Linked DNA regions of Homo sapiens: all the other regions are linked to region 1. Evidence: fine-mapped expression QTL. A gene starts in region 1. Each other region holds a variant in brackets. All regions are shown on one strand. Distances are between the middles of the regions.

Region 1 (4,097 bases):
TTTCTCCAAATACAGTCTTATTCTGAGGCACTGGGGGTTAGGACTTCAACATATAGTGGTGAGGAGAGGCTGAATTCAGCCCAGATTTCCTATCTGCCCCGCACAGCTATTAACCTAGTGAAAATGAGAGATTTAGGAAAACACTACACGTGCAGTTACATCCTGTACAATATAAAAGGGTGGCTGTTGGAGTTGTTAAATTAGTCACAGCTTCAACTATTTTAAAATCATTTATGAATTTAAATTGCTTGTATGGGATGATGTATATAGTGGCTACTGTTTCAGAGAGCAAAGCCCTAGAATCAGATGACATCCAGAATGTCATGTTGAAGATCGTATCTGCAAACAAGTAGTTTAAATTTTTAAAAACTTCTCTTAATTCAAAAATTCAAAAAAAATGAGAAAAGTAATCTCACAAGTAGTGGTTAATTATAGAAGATGAGAGGTGTGGAGGTTTTTTTTTTTTGTTTGGGGTGCATAAGCTTAAAATAACATGAAAAGCATGTCAAAAAGAATATGAGAACAGAGTGGACTTGAAATTTAACATATCCTACTGGCATCACTTGTTTATAGAAAAATAAAATGGATCATGTATTTATTTGAGGACTCACTATGCTTTCTTTGATCACATTTTTATAGGTACAGCGTGGTGTTCAAACTTTTAATGTATGGAGAAAAATGAAACGGCTAGAAAAATGGCCCAGTACAGACAATTCTATGCTCAATCCAACTTGAACAGAAACTACAGGATTTGGCCTAAACAAGACTGAAAGGGAAGCCCTTATCAGGAAAGCCATTATCTGAGAAGATAAAATAAAGTAATACTTTGTTTTTAAAGTATTATACAATTCATATCTAATATTTCAACCTCAGCCTTTCAAGTGTTGTCTAACACCAATAATAATATTGCCACCCCTCCCTCAACCGGTTATCTTCTTTTCATATTTCTAGCTACTTAAATCCACCAAGCAAATTCTGGTTTCGCTATTTCTGGATTTAAGTACATTTTCTAATGCACCCAGGCCACACGCAGGAATGGACACAGCTTTCGCTCTCCGCATAAGTTTTCTAGCCCAGGGCAAGCTCTCAGAACGTGACTCCTCGTGCCTCGCTGCCCGCCCCTCGCTCCCCCCACTCCCGCCATCATCCCTTCCGCAGAGTTGGCTGCCAAGCCGACACCCACAGATTCTGCATTCCACGGCTTCCCAGCATCCTGCTGTCTCTGCGTGGAGGAAAGGGTGCTGCGAATCCCAGTTTAGATAAGGAACCCCGTCTTTTCACTACTACACCGAAGCATGCAGGAATAGGGCGTTGACCCCATTCTCCCAGCTCAGGGCACAGGTGCTAAGGCCGACCCATCTCACGGGCCTGTTCACCAGTTTCCCACACTCAGTACAGATCCTAACACGGTTTATGCACTTCATAACCATGCGTTTGTGTTTGTCAACTGACAAACGAGTGATAATGACAAACGAATGACACAAGGGAAACCAACAGCCAATCAGAGCGCAAGGTTGTGTTGCCAGCATCCCAGTTTCAGGGACAGTCACCGCCAAGCCCGACCCTGCAAAGGGTCGTAACCGGACTTCGGGGCAAACTTCAGGTCCCCCGCCTGCTAGCCCGCCAACCCCCTCCGCCAGGCAGCCGGCGCGCCTCCAGGTTCCGCCCAGGCGTCGCTGAGTGGCGGCGGCGGGGAGAATGCGCGCGGCGCAGCCAATCCGGGGGCGTTCCTACACCCCCTGCCCGCCCCCGACCTTCCAGAGCAGAGCAGGACACTGGCGCCGCGGGTCAGGCAGCTGCGTGCGCGTCTCCTCCAGGCAGCAAGGGGAACCCGAGGCCGCCGGCGCCCGGACCATGTCGTCTCCGGGGCCGTCGCAGCCGCCGGCCGAGGACCCGCCCTGGCCCGCGCGCCTCCTGCGTGCGCCTCTGGGGCTGCTGCGGCTGGACCCCAGCGGGGGCGCGCTGCTGCTATGCGGCCTCGTAGCGCTGCTGGGCTGGAGCTGGCTGCGGAGGCGCCGGGCGCGGGGCATCCCGCCCGGGCCCACGCCCTGGCCTCTGGTGGGCAACTTCGGTCACGTGCTGCTGCCTCCCTTCCTCCGGCGGCGGAGCTGGCTGAGCAGCAGGACCAGGGCCGCAGGGATTGATCCCTCGGTCATAGGCCCGCAGGTGCTCCTGGCTCACCTAGCCCGCGTGTACGGCAGCATCTTCAGCTTCTTTATCGGCCACTACCTGGTGGTGGTCCTCAGCGACTTCCACAGCGTGCGCGAGGCGCTGGTGCAGCAGGCCGAGGTCTTCAGCGACCGCCCGCGGGTGCCGCTCATCTCCATCGTGACCAAGGAGAAGGGTGAGCGGGAGGTCGTGGGCTGTGGGTACGCGGATGCCGCGGATGAGTCTCCAGGTGCGTGGGGGCTGCAGTTCCTGTGCCCCTTCCGGCCGCCCGCGCCCCCAGGCTGCCTCACACCTGCATCCTGAACTAACAGGTGATGGTGGTGGCGGCGCTTCTCCTTTCTGATGCCTTTAAGATCCCATCAAGTAGTGACGGACGCGTGACTTGCTCATACTCCAAGATCATAAGTAGAAAAGTCATCCGGAGATTGAGGGAGAGTAATAGGGATGGCGGAAGGACAAGGTGGCAAGCCAGGTTCCATCTTTCCAAAAGTAGCCTTCCCTTCCACCAGCTGTGACCTCGGAGAGAAACTTTGGCCCCCATGTTAGAAAGAGGGAAGGATATTCTTTTTACCTTGTGGGTTTCGAATGTAAGAATTTAAGAAGATAATTTCCAATAAGATAAAAAGTCCAGAAAACACAGAAGAAGCCTATTACCAAATCTCCGGCTTTGGTTCATAGCCTCTGATTCCTGCGTATGGGAGTCTAAATTGGACATTTTTGGGGGTTGGAAAACGTGTTATCTGCTGCAATAAAATGTCCAATCTAACCTGTCTCTACCGTCCCCCTTTGTCTTACTGGCTGGCTTAGGTCTCTGACTTCTTTTCTGAGTCACTCCTACGCATCAGTCAGGTGTTAAATGCCTTTTCCTTGGGGAAGCCTTTTCTCACAGCCTCTGCAAGTAGGGTAGCCTCCCTTGTTAGAACCAGGTCCCTTGCCCAAGCACTTTTCCTTCACTACACTTTTCAAAACTGACGCTACATAACTTTATGACCTTGGGCCTGGATGTCAGTCTTCACCACTGTTCTGACATCTAGGAGGACAGAGTCATTGCTGTCTGAAACATAGTAGGAGTTCAAGTATCTATTAAATGAATGCTATTTCCTGCCCCTATAACATGGCAAAGAAAGATCTAGGCTTTTCAGAATCTGATAAAGCCAGAGTTTTGCATCAGGATTTTAAACGGAAAAGACAAATATTGTATGATCCACTTATATGAGGTGCCTCCTAGCGTAGTGAAATTCATAGGGACAGAAAGTCTCAGTTTTGCAAGATGAAAAAAGTTCTATGGATGGATGGTAGCAATGGTTGCACAACAGTGTGACAGTACCTAATGCCATTAAGGTGTGCACTTAAAAATGGTTAAGATGGTAAATTTTATATGTATTTCACCACAATTTTTAAAAAAGAAAAGAAAAGCAGGTAGGTTTTCTCCAGGCACCCATGAGCTCAGAAGAGAATTTTAGGTAGAAGCAGTATTACGAAGGCATGTAGTGGATGAGGTGTGAACTGTGACATTTGTTTTTCAGTGGGGCATTTAAAGTATTATGATCTTTATCCCTACTCATTTAAAATCCTTAGATAATGTCTTAGTGTTCATCCATGTTGTGGCATATGTGAAAATTTTCTTTTGAAGACTAATATTCCATCATATGTACAATCATCCCTCCTTATCTGTAGGGGATTCCTTCCAGGACCTCCTGCGAATAACAAAACCCTAGGATGCTCAAGTCCCTGATATAAAATGGTGTAGTATTTGCATATAGCCTATGCATATCCTCTTGGATACTTTAAATCATCTCTAGATTATTTATAATACCTACTACAATGTAAATGCTTTGTAAATAGTTGTTATACAGTATTGTTTAAGGAATGACAAGAAAAAAAGTCTACACATTCAGTACAGATGTGTTTTTTTGATCTGCGGTTGG
Region 2 (4,000 bases), 23 kb after region 1:
GTTCATACTGATAGAGAAGAGGGCAAGAAAAGATCCAGAGTGGCTGTTACTTTGAAAATTAAACGAAAGATGAAATTCTGAACTTAAAACACTTCTGTTTGGCCTTCTATAACTGATCACCCTTCTTTGCTCTGTTTTCCAGATAAATGGAGACACCAGATCTCCCTAACCTCTGACTTCTGCCGTTAGCCATACTCTGTGTAGTTAGATCTCAGTCTGGGAATGGCATTCCAGGGCAATTGTGAACATGAGGCTAGATTTTTCCTTTGATTTAGCACATTCCTAGGCAGACTTTTGCAAGCTCAAAAAATGAAAATAATATCTGCTTAACCAAAACATAATCATAGGAAGAAGAAAAATTTTAAAATGATTGATTTTTGACTCTACATTCTTTATCTACCATACTGCTCTTTTCCTTTTTAGAAATATTACTAAGCACTTTCCGTATAGATAAATGAAATACAGGCTAATCTTTAGGTGTCTTAGGAATTTTTGCTTTTTGAAAAAGAAAAGCTAATAGCCTAACTGCAGAGGAACTGAGTGGATGGGGTAGCTGCTGTATAGATTTTTAGATGAGATGATACAGTGTGGATTACACTGTACCTTGGGCGGGAGAGTTTGTTCTTGATATGGAATTCATATGCTTTTGAATTGCACTAATAACTCAGCATTAACAAGTATATTACTCCTTAAATTATACATGCATTTTCAATATTCCTAACCAAATAGTTTATAGCTTATTGAGAAGAAGTCTGTTCTTGGAGAGATGTTGAAATTAGATGTTTATTAAACTTTAAAATATAATGCCTTAAGCTGTGGCACTTTAAAAACATCTTTATATATAAATTGCTAAAAGGACTGTTAATGCTTTTCTCAGACACATTGGCATTTTACAATTTTGCACATGGTTTATTTGAAATCAAAAAATAACTATACTTTGTTTTATAAGTCTACCTAATATCTCATTTTTGATTCTCATCGTTAGCACAGTTTTGTTGCTTTTATTAAACTATTTTAACTGAGAAAGTGTCATGTCTGTTTTTTGTTTTGATTTAATTGCTATGCAAAATTTTGTTTTACCAGATGTCAAGTTAATGTAAAAAGAAAAGAAAATAGGCCTCCAAAGACAGATGTCCACAATAGAATGTAAGCATGGTCCTTAGAAACAAGGGTAATTCTTTAAAACTTTCCCCATGGAGTGAAGTTCCTTAGAGGACTGCATCACCACCCAGGTGTCTTATATTCCCTGTAGAAGCCCAGCATGAGTTGAGTTGAGAGGAGATGGGCCCACATGAGCCTGCTGTGGCCAAGTATTGAGTGCTGGTCTCACACTTCCCAGCTCAGGAAAAAGAGCTTTTTCATACTTGAACCATATTTTGCCTGTGGAGGGACCCCCTGCCAGCTTTTTCCACAGCCTACTCTTCTTCCTGAAGTCACAGCTCAGACAGCATCTCCTCAGAGAGGTCACCCACCATGACATCCAAAGTGGCCTTTCCTGAGAACTCCCTAATCTCATCACCCAATTTCCTCCAGAGCCCTCATCACTAACTGCAACTACCTTGTTTATTTAAACCTTCTGTTTCTATCCTCTCTCTCATCTCCACTCCATGAGGATGTCAGGGACTGACTATATCTGATAACTTACCAAGAGTGGATGCCTTATGCAGAGCAGGCATCAGTAAATATGTTGGGCAAATGAAGAATTAAGTGAGTTTGATGGAAGGTGATTATTTGACCCTTTAGGCTACAGAGGTGATGATACAGGCAAACCTGTCATTGTTTTCTGTCTGCTGCCTCAGTGACTGTGGCTTGTGCCACCAGAGTATGAGTTCTGGTGAAATAACAGTAGTGAAACAAGGGGAACACCAAATAATGTGGCACCCTCAAATCTACTTCGGTTTTGCTGCACTGTTTTTAGAAACCAAATTCATTTAAGTAGGGTATTTGTTCATTAGTAAATAATTTGGTATTATCATCATTGAAATGATATACTTTTATATTATTTTATTTATTTTTTTTGAGACAGGGTCTCACTCTGTTGCCCAGGCTAGGGTGCAGTGGCATGATCACGGCTCACTGCAGGCTGAAGTGATCCTCCCACCTCAGCCTCCTAAGTACCTAGGACTACAGGTGTGTGCCACCATGCCTGGCTAAGATATTTCATATTCTTATCAGTTCTT[C/A]CCTTTGTATGAGGGTCAAATAATCAGTTTTTGTTAAGGGAAAAGGCTAATTATCCATAAGACTCTCAGTGGATTGCTCAGCAAAATCCCTGCAGCCAAGGATAGAGTAGGATGATGTATTCAAAATTCTAAAAGAAAAAAACTGCCAAACAAGAATATTGCATTGGGCAAAAATAGCCTTTAAAAATAAAGGATAAAGTCATCCCAAGACAAATGAAACTGAGGGAATCTGTTTGTTACCACTAGACCTGTCTTATAAGAAATACTTAAGGAAATTCTTCAAATTAAAATGAAAACATGTTAAATAGCAACATGAAAACATAAATCTCACTGGTAAAAGAAAATATACAGGGAAATATAGAATAATGTAACACTATAATAGTACATAAATTACTTTTTACCCTAATATAAAAGTTAAAAGATGGCTGGGCCCAGTGGCTCACACCTGTAATACCAGCACTTTGGGAGGCTGAGGCAGGCAGATCATGAGGTCAGGAAATTAAGACCATCCTGGCCAACATGGTGAAACCCCATCTCTACTAAAAATACCAAAATTAGCTGGGCATGGTGGCACATGCCTGTAATCCCAGCTACTTGGGAGGCTGAGGCAGGAGAATCGCTTAAACCAAGGGAGTTGGAGGTTGCAGTGAGCTGAGATCACGCCACTGCACTCCAGCCTGGTGACAGAGCAAGACTTTGTCTAAAACACACACACACACACACACACACACACAATTGTTAATGGATACACACTATAAAGATAATTAAACACTGAATTCAAGGACACAAAGGTTGGGGAGAATGGCGTTTTTGTATGAGATTGAAGTTAGTATCAGCTTGAAATAGACAGTTGTAACTATAAGATGCTTTATGCAAGCCCAAAACATAATCAAATCACAAGGGAAGACAGAAAGAGAGGGAGAAATGAATACAGAGCAACAAAATAACCAGAAACAGTTATCAGACTGGCAATAGTAAGCCTTTACCTATTGATAATTACTTTAACTGTACATAGACTTAACCTCCCCAGTCAAAAGACATAGAGTAACTGAATGGATTTAAAAAGAAGATTCAACTGTATGTTGTCTACAAGAGACTCACTTCAGATTTAAGGACACACATAGGCTGAAAGTGAAGCAATGGAAAAAGATATTCCATGCATATGTTAATTAAAAGAGAGCAAGGATGGCTATACTCATGCCAGATGAAATAGACTTTAAGTAAAAAACTGTAACTAGAGACAAAAAAGACCATTATATAATGATGAAAGGGCCAACTGAACAAGAAGATACAATTATAAATATATACACATCCAACATCAGTGTACCTAGATATATAAAAGCAAATATTGATCTATCTAAAGAGAGAAATGGACAGTAATACAATAACAGTAGGAGACTTCAACACCCTGCTTTCAATAATGGATACAACATCTGCACAGAAAATCAATTAAAATAAAAACAGGTGACTTGAACAACACTATGGACCAGATGGACCTAACAGACAACTATAGAACTTTCCATCCAACAGAAGAATATACATTCTTCTCATGTGTACACAAAACATTCTCCAGGATAGATCATACATTGAGTAACAAAACAAGTCTTAACAAATGTAAAAAAAATGGAAATCATACCAAACATCTTTTCTAACCACAATGGAATGAAACTAGAAATCAAAAACGGTAAGAAAATGAAAAAATTCACAAATATGGGAAAACAAAACAATACACTCTAATAAAGATTGGGTCAAAGAAGAAATCAAAGGGAAATTCAAGAAATATCTTTGGACAAATAAAAACCTAAACACAACATACTAAA
Region 3 (4,097 bases), 29 kb after region 1:
AAGGAGAAATAAAATCCTTTACCAGACAAGCTAATGCTAAGAGATTTTGTCACCACCAGGCCTGCCTTACAAGTGCTCCTAAAGGAAGCACTAAACATGGAAAGGAATAACAGGTACCAGCCACTGCAAAAATACGCCAAATTGTAAAGACCATCGCTGGTAGGAAGAAACTGCATCAACTAACGAGCAAAATAACTAGCTAACATCATAATGATAAGATCAAATTCACACATAACAATATTAACCTTTAACGTAAATGGGCTAAATGCCCCAATTAAAAGACACAGACTGGCAAATTGGATAAAGAGTCAAGACCCATCAGTGTGCTGTATTCAGGAGACCCATCTCACGTGCGGAGACACACATAGGCTCAAAATAAAGGGATGGAGGAAGATCTACCAAGCAAATGGAAAAAAAAAAAAAGCAGCAATTCCAATCCTAGTCTCTGATAAAACAGACTTTAAACCAACAAAGATCAAAAGAGACAAAGAAGGCCATTACGTAATGGTAAAGGGATCAATTCAACAAGAAGAGCTAACTATCCTAAATATATATGCACCCAATGCAGGAGCACCCATTTTCATAAAGCAAGTCCTTAGAGACCTACAAAGAGACTTAGACTCCCACACAATAATAATGGGAGACTTTAACACCCCACTGTCAACATTAGACAGATCAACGAGACAGGAAGTTAACAAGGATATCCAGGAATTGAACTCAGCTCTGCACCAAGTGGACCTAATAGACATCTATAGAACTCTCCAACCCAAGTCAACAGAGTATACATTCTTCTCAGTACCACATTGCACTTATTCCAAAATTGACCACGTAGTTGGAAGTAAAGCACTCCTCAGCAAATGTAAAAGAACAGAAATTATAACAAACTGTCTCTCAGACCACAGTGCAATCAAACTAGAACTCAGGATTAAGAAACTAACTCAAAACCGCTCAACTACATGGAAACTGAACAACCTGCTCCTGAATGACGACTGGGTACATAACAAAATGAAGGCAGAAATAAAGATGTTCCTTGAAACCAATGAGAACAAAGACACAACATACCAGAATCTTTGGGACACATTTAAAGCAGTGTGTAAAGGGAAATTTATAGCACTAAATGCCCACAAGAGAAAGCAGGAAAGATCTAAACTTGACACCCTAACATCACAATTAAAAGAACTAGCGAAGCAAGAGCAAACACATTCAAAAGCTAGCAGAAGGCAAGAAATAACAGATCAGACCAGAACTGAAGGAGATACAGGCACAAAAATCCCTTCAAAAAATTGATGAATCCAGGAGCTGATTTTTTGAAAAGATCAACAAAATAGATAGAACGCTAGCAAGACTAATAAAGAAGAAAAGAGAGAAGAATCAAATAGATGCAATAAAAAATGATAAAGGGGATATCACCACCGATTCCACAGAAATACAAACTACCATCAGAGAATACTATAAACACCTCTACACAAATAAACTAGAAAATCTAGAAGAAATGGATAAATTCCTGGACACATACACCCTCCCAAGACTAAACCAGGAAGAAGTTGAATCCCTGAATAGACCAATAACAGGTTCTGAAATTGAGGCAATAATTAATAGCCTACCAATCAAAAAAGGCCAGGACCAGGCGGATTCATAGCCAAATTCTACCAGAGGTACAAAGAGGAGCTGTTACCATTCCTGCTGAACCTATTCCAATCAATAGAAAAAGAGGGAATCCTCCCTAACTCGTTTTATGAGGCCAGCATCATACTGATACCAAAGCCTGGCAGAGAGACAACAAAAAAAGAGAATTTTAGACCAATATCCCTGATGAACATCGAGGCAAAAATCCTCAATAAAATACTGGCAAACCGAATCTAGCAGCACATCAAAAAGCTTATCCACCATGATCAAGTTGGCTTCATCCCTGGGATGCAAGGCTGCTTCAATATACACAAATCAAGAAATGTAATCCATCATATAAACAGAACCAAAGACCAAAATCA[G/C]ATGATTGTCTCAATAGATGCAGAAAAGGCCTTCAACAAAATTCAACAGCCCTTCATGCTAAAAACTCTCAATAAACTAGATATTGATGGGACACATCTCAAAATAATAAGAGTTATTTCTGACAAACCCACAGCCAATATCATACTGAATGGGCAAAAACTGGAAGCATTCTCTTGGCACAAGACAGGGATGCCCTCTCTCACCACTTCTATTCAACATAGTGTTGGAAGTTCTGGCCAGGGCAATCAGGCAGGAGAAAGAAATAAATGGTACTCAATTAGGAAAAGAGGAACTCAAATCATCCCTGTTTGCAGATTATATGATTGTATATTTAGAAAACCCCATAGTCTCAGCCCAAAATCTCCTTAGGCTGATAAGCACCTTTAGCAAAGTCTCTGGATACAAAATCAATGTGCAAAAATCACAAGCATTCTTATACACCAATAACAGACAAACAGAGAGCCAAATCATGAGTGAACTCCCATTCACAATTGCCTCAAAGAGAATAAAATACCTAGGAATCCAACTTACAAGGGATGTGAAGGACCTCTTCAAGGAGAATTACAAACCACTGCTCAACGAAATAAAAGACGACACAAACAAATGGAAGAATGTTCCATGCTCATGGATAGGAAGAATCAATATAGTGAAAATGGCCATACTGCCCAAGGTAATTTATAGATTCAATGACATCCCCATCCAGCTACCAATGACTTTCTTCACAGAATTGGAAAAAACTACTTTAAAGTTCATATGGAACCAAAAAACAGCCCACAATGGCAAGACAATCCTAAGCCAAAAGAACAAAGCTGGAAGCATCATGCTACCTGACTTCAAACTATACTACAAGGCTACAGTAACCAAAACAGCATGGTATTGGTACCAAAACAGAGATATAGACCAATGGAACAGAACAGAGCCCTCAGAAATAATACCACACATCTCCAACCATCTGATCTTTGACAAACCTGACAAAAACAAGAAGTGGGGAAGGATTCCTTATTTAATAAATGGTGCTGGGAAAACTGGCTAGCCATATGTAGAAAGCTGAAACTGTATCCCTTCCTTACACCTTATACAAAAATTAATGCAAGATGGATTAGAGACTTAAATGTTAGACCTAAAACCATAAAAACCCTAGAAGAAAACCTAGGCAATACCATTCAGGACATAGACATGGGCAATGACTTCATGACTCAAACACCAAAAGCAATGGCAACAAATGCCAAAATTGACAAATGAGATCTAATTAAACTAAAGAGCTTCTGCACAGCAAAAGAAACTACCATCAGAGTGAACAGGCAACCTAGAGAATGGGAGAAAATTTTTACAATCTACCCATCTGACAAAGGGCTAATATCCAGAATCTACAAAGAACTTAAACAAATTTACAAGAAAAAAATCAAACAACCCCATCAAAAAGTGGGTGAAGGATATGAACAGACACTTCTCAAAAGAAGACATTTATGCAGCCATGAGACACATGAAAAAATGCTCATCATCACTGGCCATCAGACAAATGCAAATCAAAACCAAATGCAAATCAGTGAGATACCATCTCACACCAGTTAGAATGGCGATCACTAAAAAGTCAGGAAACAACAGGTGCTGGAAAGGATGTGGAGAAATAGGAACACTTTTACACTGTTGGTGGGACTGTAAACTAGTTCAACCATTGTGGAAGACAGTGTGGCGATTCCTCAAGGATCTAGAACTAGAAATATCATTTGACCCAGCCATCCCATTACTGGGTATATACCCAAAGGATTATAAATCATGCTGCTATAAAGACACATCAACACATATGTTTATTGCAGCACTATTCACAATAGCAAAGACTTGGAACCAACCCAAATGTCCATCAATGATAGACTGGATTAAGAAAATGTGGCACATATACAACATGGAATACTATGCAGCCATAAAAAAGGATGAGTTCATGTCCTTTGCAGGGACATGGATGAAGCTGGAAACTATCATTCTGAACAAACTATCACAAGGACAGAAAACCAAACACCGCATATTCTCACTCATAGGTGGGAATTGAACAATGAGAACACTTGGACACGGTGGGGAACATCACACACTGGGGCTTGTCATGGGGTAGG
Region 4 (4,097 bases), 35 kb after region 1:
TTGACATGTTGCCCAGGTTGAAAGCAATCTTGAGAAAGAATAATAAAGCTGGCGACATCACACTTCCTGATTTCAAAAGATATTTCAAAGCTACAGTAACCTAAGTGCGATGGTACTGACATAAAAACAGACATATAGATTAACGGAACAGAATAGAGAGCCCATAAATAAATCCATGCATTCACAGTCAATCTTCACTAGAGTGCCAAGAGCACACAATGGTGAAAGGATAGTCTCTTCAATAACTAATGTTGGGAAAACTGGATATTCACAGGCAAAAGAATGAAATTAGACCCTCATCTGACACCATAAACAAAAATAAACTCAAAATGGATTAAAAACTTAAACATAAGACTCAGAACCGTAAAACTACTAGAAGAAAGCATAGGGAAAAAGCTTTCTGACATTTGTCTTGGCAATAATATGTTTGAATAAGATAGCAAGAGTACAGGCAACAAAAGCAAAAATAGACAAGTAGAATCACATCAAATTAAAAAACTGCTGCCCAGCAAAGAAAAAAAAATCACAGAGTTAAATAACAACCTATGGAATGGGAGAAAATATTTGTAAACCATATATCTTACAAGGAGTTAATATCCAAAATATATAAGGAACTCACACGAGTCAATAGCAAAAGCAAATAATCCAATTATAAAATGGGCAAAGGACCTAAATAGGCATTTCTAGAAAGAAGATATACAAATGGCCAACAGGTATATGTAATGGTGCTCAACATCACTAATCATCAGGGAAATGCAGATGAAAACCCAATGAAACATCACCTCATAACTATCAGGATGGCTATTAATCAAAAAGACAAGAGATTAAAAGTGTTGACAAAGATGCAGGAAAAAGGGAACCCTTGTACAGTGTTCATGAGAATTTATATTGGGACAGCCTTTATCAAAAACAGTATACAGGGTCCTCAAAAAATAAAAAATAGAACGACCATATTATCTAGCAATCCCTCTTTTGGGATATACCCACAGAAATGGAAATCAAGATTAAGATCTTGAAGATTTATCTGCACTCCCATGTTCACTGCAGCATTATTCACAACAGCTAAGATATGAAAAGAGTGTAAGTATCCACTGATGGATGAATGGATAAAAGAAAATGTGGTGTACACACACACACACACACACACACACACACACACAATGGAATATTATTCAGCCTCAGGAAAGAATGAAATTTTGCCATTTGCAACAACATGGATGAACCTGGAGGATATTATGCTAAATGAAATAAGGCAGACACAGAAAAACAAATACTGCTTGATCCCATTGATGTGTGAAACCTAAAATAGTCGCACTCATAGAATTATAAAGCGAATGGTGGTTGCCAGGGGCAGTAGGGAGGGAGAAACGGTAATGCTGGTCAAAGGATAAAAAGTTTCAATATGCAGGATGAATACGTTCTACAGATCTAATGTACAGCCTGGTGGCTATGATTAACAATATTCCTTACTTGAAATTTTCTAAGAAGTAGATCTTAAATGTTTTTGCCACAAAAAAAGATAATAATAAAAGAAGAAAAAGAAAATGGTAACTTGGTGAGGTGATAGATATGTTAATTGGTTTGATTGTGAAGACCATTTCACAATGTATACATACATCAAAACATCAAGTTGTATACCTTAAATATGTACAATTTTTATCCATCAATGTTCTTCAATAAGGCTGTTTAAAGAAAAAAAGAAAAAATCCAACTCTTAAAAAAATAATAGAATCAATCAGAAAACTAAAACAGCATACACTTAATGACATAAAAATAGAAAACTCTTGTATTCCAAAAAACGGCTGGCAAATCATGAAAAAATGTTTGTATCAGCCTTGCCAAAAATTCAATATCCTTAATATATAAAGTGCTTATAAGTCAGTGCTTATAAATCCATATATACTATAATATATAGTATCTTTAATATTTTCATATACTATAGCATAGTATTTCTTCTAGTGAACTGTAAGTGCTATAATTCAGTAGTAGAATACCCTAATTTTAAAAACAGGCAAAAGATACAAATTATTGTGTTAAACTTTTAAGTTCAGGGGTACATGTGCAGGTTTGTTACATAGGATAACTGTGTCATGGTGATACAGGAGTTAAGAAGAAATCACTTAGGCAGATAGTGAGGGTACAGAAGTCCTCGGTAAGGCTTTTCTCTTTAATGAAAAGCAGCCCCAAATCATTGTCTAACAAAGAGCAGCCTGTAAAGTCAAGCGGCAGACATAGACGAGGAAGCTGGGAGCTTGCAT[G/A]GGTGAATGCTGGCAGGAACTAGGGGCTAGACATGTTTAAGATGGCAGCTTCATCTTCCCTTCTCTGCCAGCCATGTGTACAGTAAGAAGCAGACAAGATGGCTCAGATCAACTGGAAAGCCCATTTGCATAATAAGATTAGGGTGAGACAACCGGCCTTTCCCCATCTGCTATGTAAATGTCATACCTGATCGAACCTATCTGTGAACCCTTTGTAAATCAGACACTGCCTCCTCAAACCTGACTATAAAATTCAATGCCACCTGCAGGTCTTTTCCATTCAGGGACCCCACTCTCTCTATAGAGAAAGCTGTTTCTCTTTCTCTTCTCTTCTGCCTATTAAACCTCCACTCCTAAACTCCTCTTGTTTGTCCATGTCTTAACATTTTCCTGGTGCACGACCATGAACCCCAGGGTATATACCCCAGACAACATAGTCACTTCTATGGGGGTTTATTGTACAGATTATTTCATCACCCAGGTATTAAACCTAGTACCCATTAGTGATTTTTCCTGATCCTCTCCCTCCTCCCACCCTCCACCTTGAGATAGGCCCCAGTGTGTGTTGTTCCCCTCTATGTGTCCATGTGTTCTTATCATTTAGCTCCCACTTATAAGTGAGAGCATGAGGTATTTGGTTTTCTGTTCCTGCATTAGTTTGCTAAGGATAATGGCCTCCAGCTCCATCCACATCCCTGTGAAGGATATGATCTCATTCTTTTTTATGGCTGCATAGTATTCCATGTTGTATATGTACCACATTTTCTTTACCCAGTCTATCATTGATGGGCATTTAGATTGACTCCATGTTTTTGCTATTGTGAATAGTGCTGCAATGAACATGTGTGCATGTGTCTTTATAATATAATGATTTATATTCCTTTGGGTATATATCCAGTAATAGATTGCTGGCTCAAAAAGTAGTTCTGTCTTTAGGTCTCTGAGGAATCACCACACTGTCTTCCACAATGGTTGAACTAATTTACACTCCCATCAACAATGTATAAGCATTCCTTTTTCTCCACAACCTCACTAGCATCTGTTATTTTTTTATTTTCTTAACAGCCAATCTTACTGGTGTGAAATGGTTTCTCACTGTGGTTTTGATTTGCATTTCTCTAATGATTAGCGATACTGAGCTTTTTTATATAATTGTTGGCCACATGTATGTCTTCTTTTGAGAAGTGTCTGTTCATATCCTTTGCCCACTTTTTAATGAGATTGTTTGTTTTTTCTTGTAAATTTGTTTAAGTTCCTTATAGACTTTTGATATCAGACCTTTGTTGAATGTAGTTTGCAAAATTTTTCTCCCATTCTGTGGGTTGTCTGTTTACTCTGTTGATAGTCTCTTTTGCTGTATAGAACCTCTTTAGTTTAATTAGATCCCATTTGTCAATTTTTGCTTTTGTTGCAATTGCTTTTGGTATGTTTATCATGAAATCTTTGCCAGTGCCTATGTCCTGAATGGTATTGCCTAGGTTATCTTCTAGAGTTTTTATAGTTTTGGGTTTTACATTTAAGTCTTTAATCCATCTTGAGTTAATTTTTGAGATATAATTTTTTTTTTGAGACAGTCTCTCTCTGTCACCCAGGCTGGAGTGCAGTGGCTCAAACTCGATTCACTGCAACCTCCACCTCCTAGGTTCAAGCAATTCTTGTGCCTCAGCCTCCCGAGTAACTGGGATTACAGGCACGTGCCACCACCCCCAGCTAATTTTTATATTTTTAGTAGAGACAAGGTTTCACCCTGTTGGCCAGACTGGTCTCGAACTCCTGGCCTCAAGTGATCCACCTGCCTCAGCCTCCAAAGTGCTGGGATTACAGGCATCAGCCACCATG

Evidence for each region. PIP is the estimated chance that this variant, and not a neighbour inherited with it, causes the effect. A credible set is the group of variants that fine-mapping cannot tell apart.
Region 2: its variant is the best candidate, but not a certain one, in a credible set for the expression of CYP2U1 in cerebellar hemisphere (GTEx, PIP 0.72).
Region 3: its variant is the best candidate, but not a certain one, in a credible set for the expression of CYP2U1 in whole blood (INTERVAL, PIP 0.56).
Region 4: its variant is the best candidate, but not a certain one, in a credible set for the expression of CYP2U1 in ovary (GTEx, PIP 0.79).

Annotation. Positions count from the first base shown.
Region 1 is chr4:107,929,790-107,933,886 of GRCh38, forward strand. It overlaps CYP2U1 (cytochrome P450 family 2 subfamily U member 1), which reads left to right and starts at 1,760. Exons shown (of 5, transcript NM_183075.3): 1 at 1,760-2,344. The coding sequence starts at 1,855. It overlaps CYP2U1-AS1 (CYP2U1 and SGMS2 antisense RNA 1), which reads right to left and starts at 2,330. Exons shown (of 7, transcript NR_125929.1): 1 at 2,182-2,330. The region is part of intron 1 of LOC107986298 (a long non-coding RNA gene); the gene reads right to left. It overlaps LOC124900751 (a long non-coding RNA gene), which reads right to left and starts at 1,796. Exons shown (of 2, transcript XR_007058221.1): 1 at 1,184-1,796; 2 at 1-114. RefSeq lists enhancers at 1,130-1,637, 2,298-2,367, 2,428-2,497 and a silencer at 1,498-2,087.
Region 2 is chr4:107,952,440-107,956,439 of GRCh38, forward strand. It overlaps CYP2U1 (cytochrome P450 family 2 subfamily U member 1), which reads left to right. Exons shown (of 5, transcript NM_183075.3): 5 at 1-1,022. All of the region lies in intron 1 of LOC107986298 (a long non-coding RNA gene), which reads right to left. Among named protein-coding and RNA genes, the nearest start is that of CYP2U1-AS1, 22 kb to the left of the region's middle. The variant C/A (reference allele first, on the strand shown) is at 2,181.
Region 3 is chr4:107,958,577-107,962,673 of GRCh38, forward strand. The region is part of intron 1 of LOC107986298 (a long non-coding RNA gene); the gene reads right to left. Among named protein-coding and RNA genes, the nearest start is that of CYP2U1-AS1, 29 kb to the left of the region's middle. The variant G/C (reference allele first, on the strand shown) is at 1,989.
Region 4 is chr4:107,964,725-107,968,821 of GRCh38, forward strand. The region is part of intron 1 of LOC107986298 (a long non-coding RNA gene); the gene reads right to left. Among named protein-coding and RNA genes, the nearest start is that of HADH, 23 kb to the right of the region's middle. The variant G/A (reference allele first, on the strand shown) is at 2,259.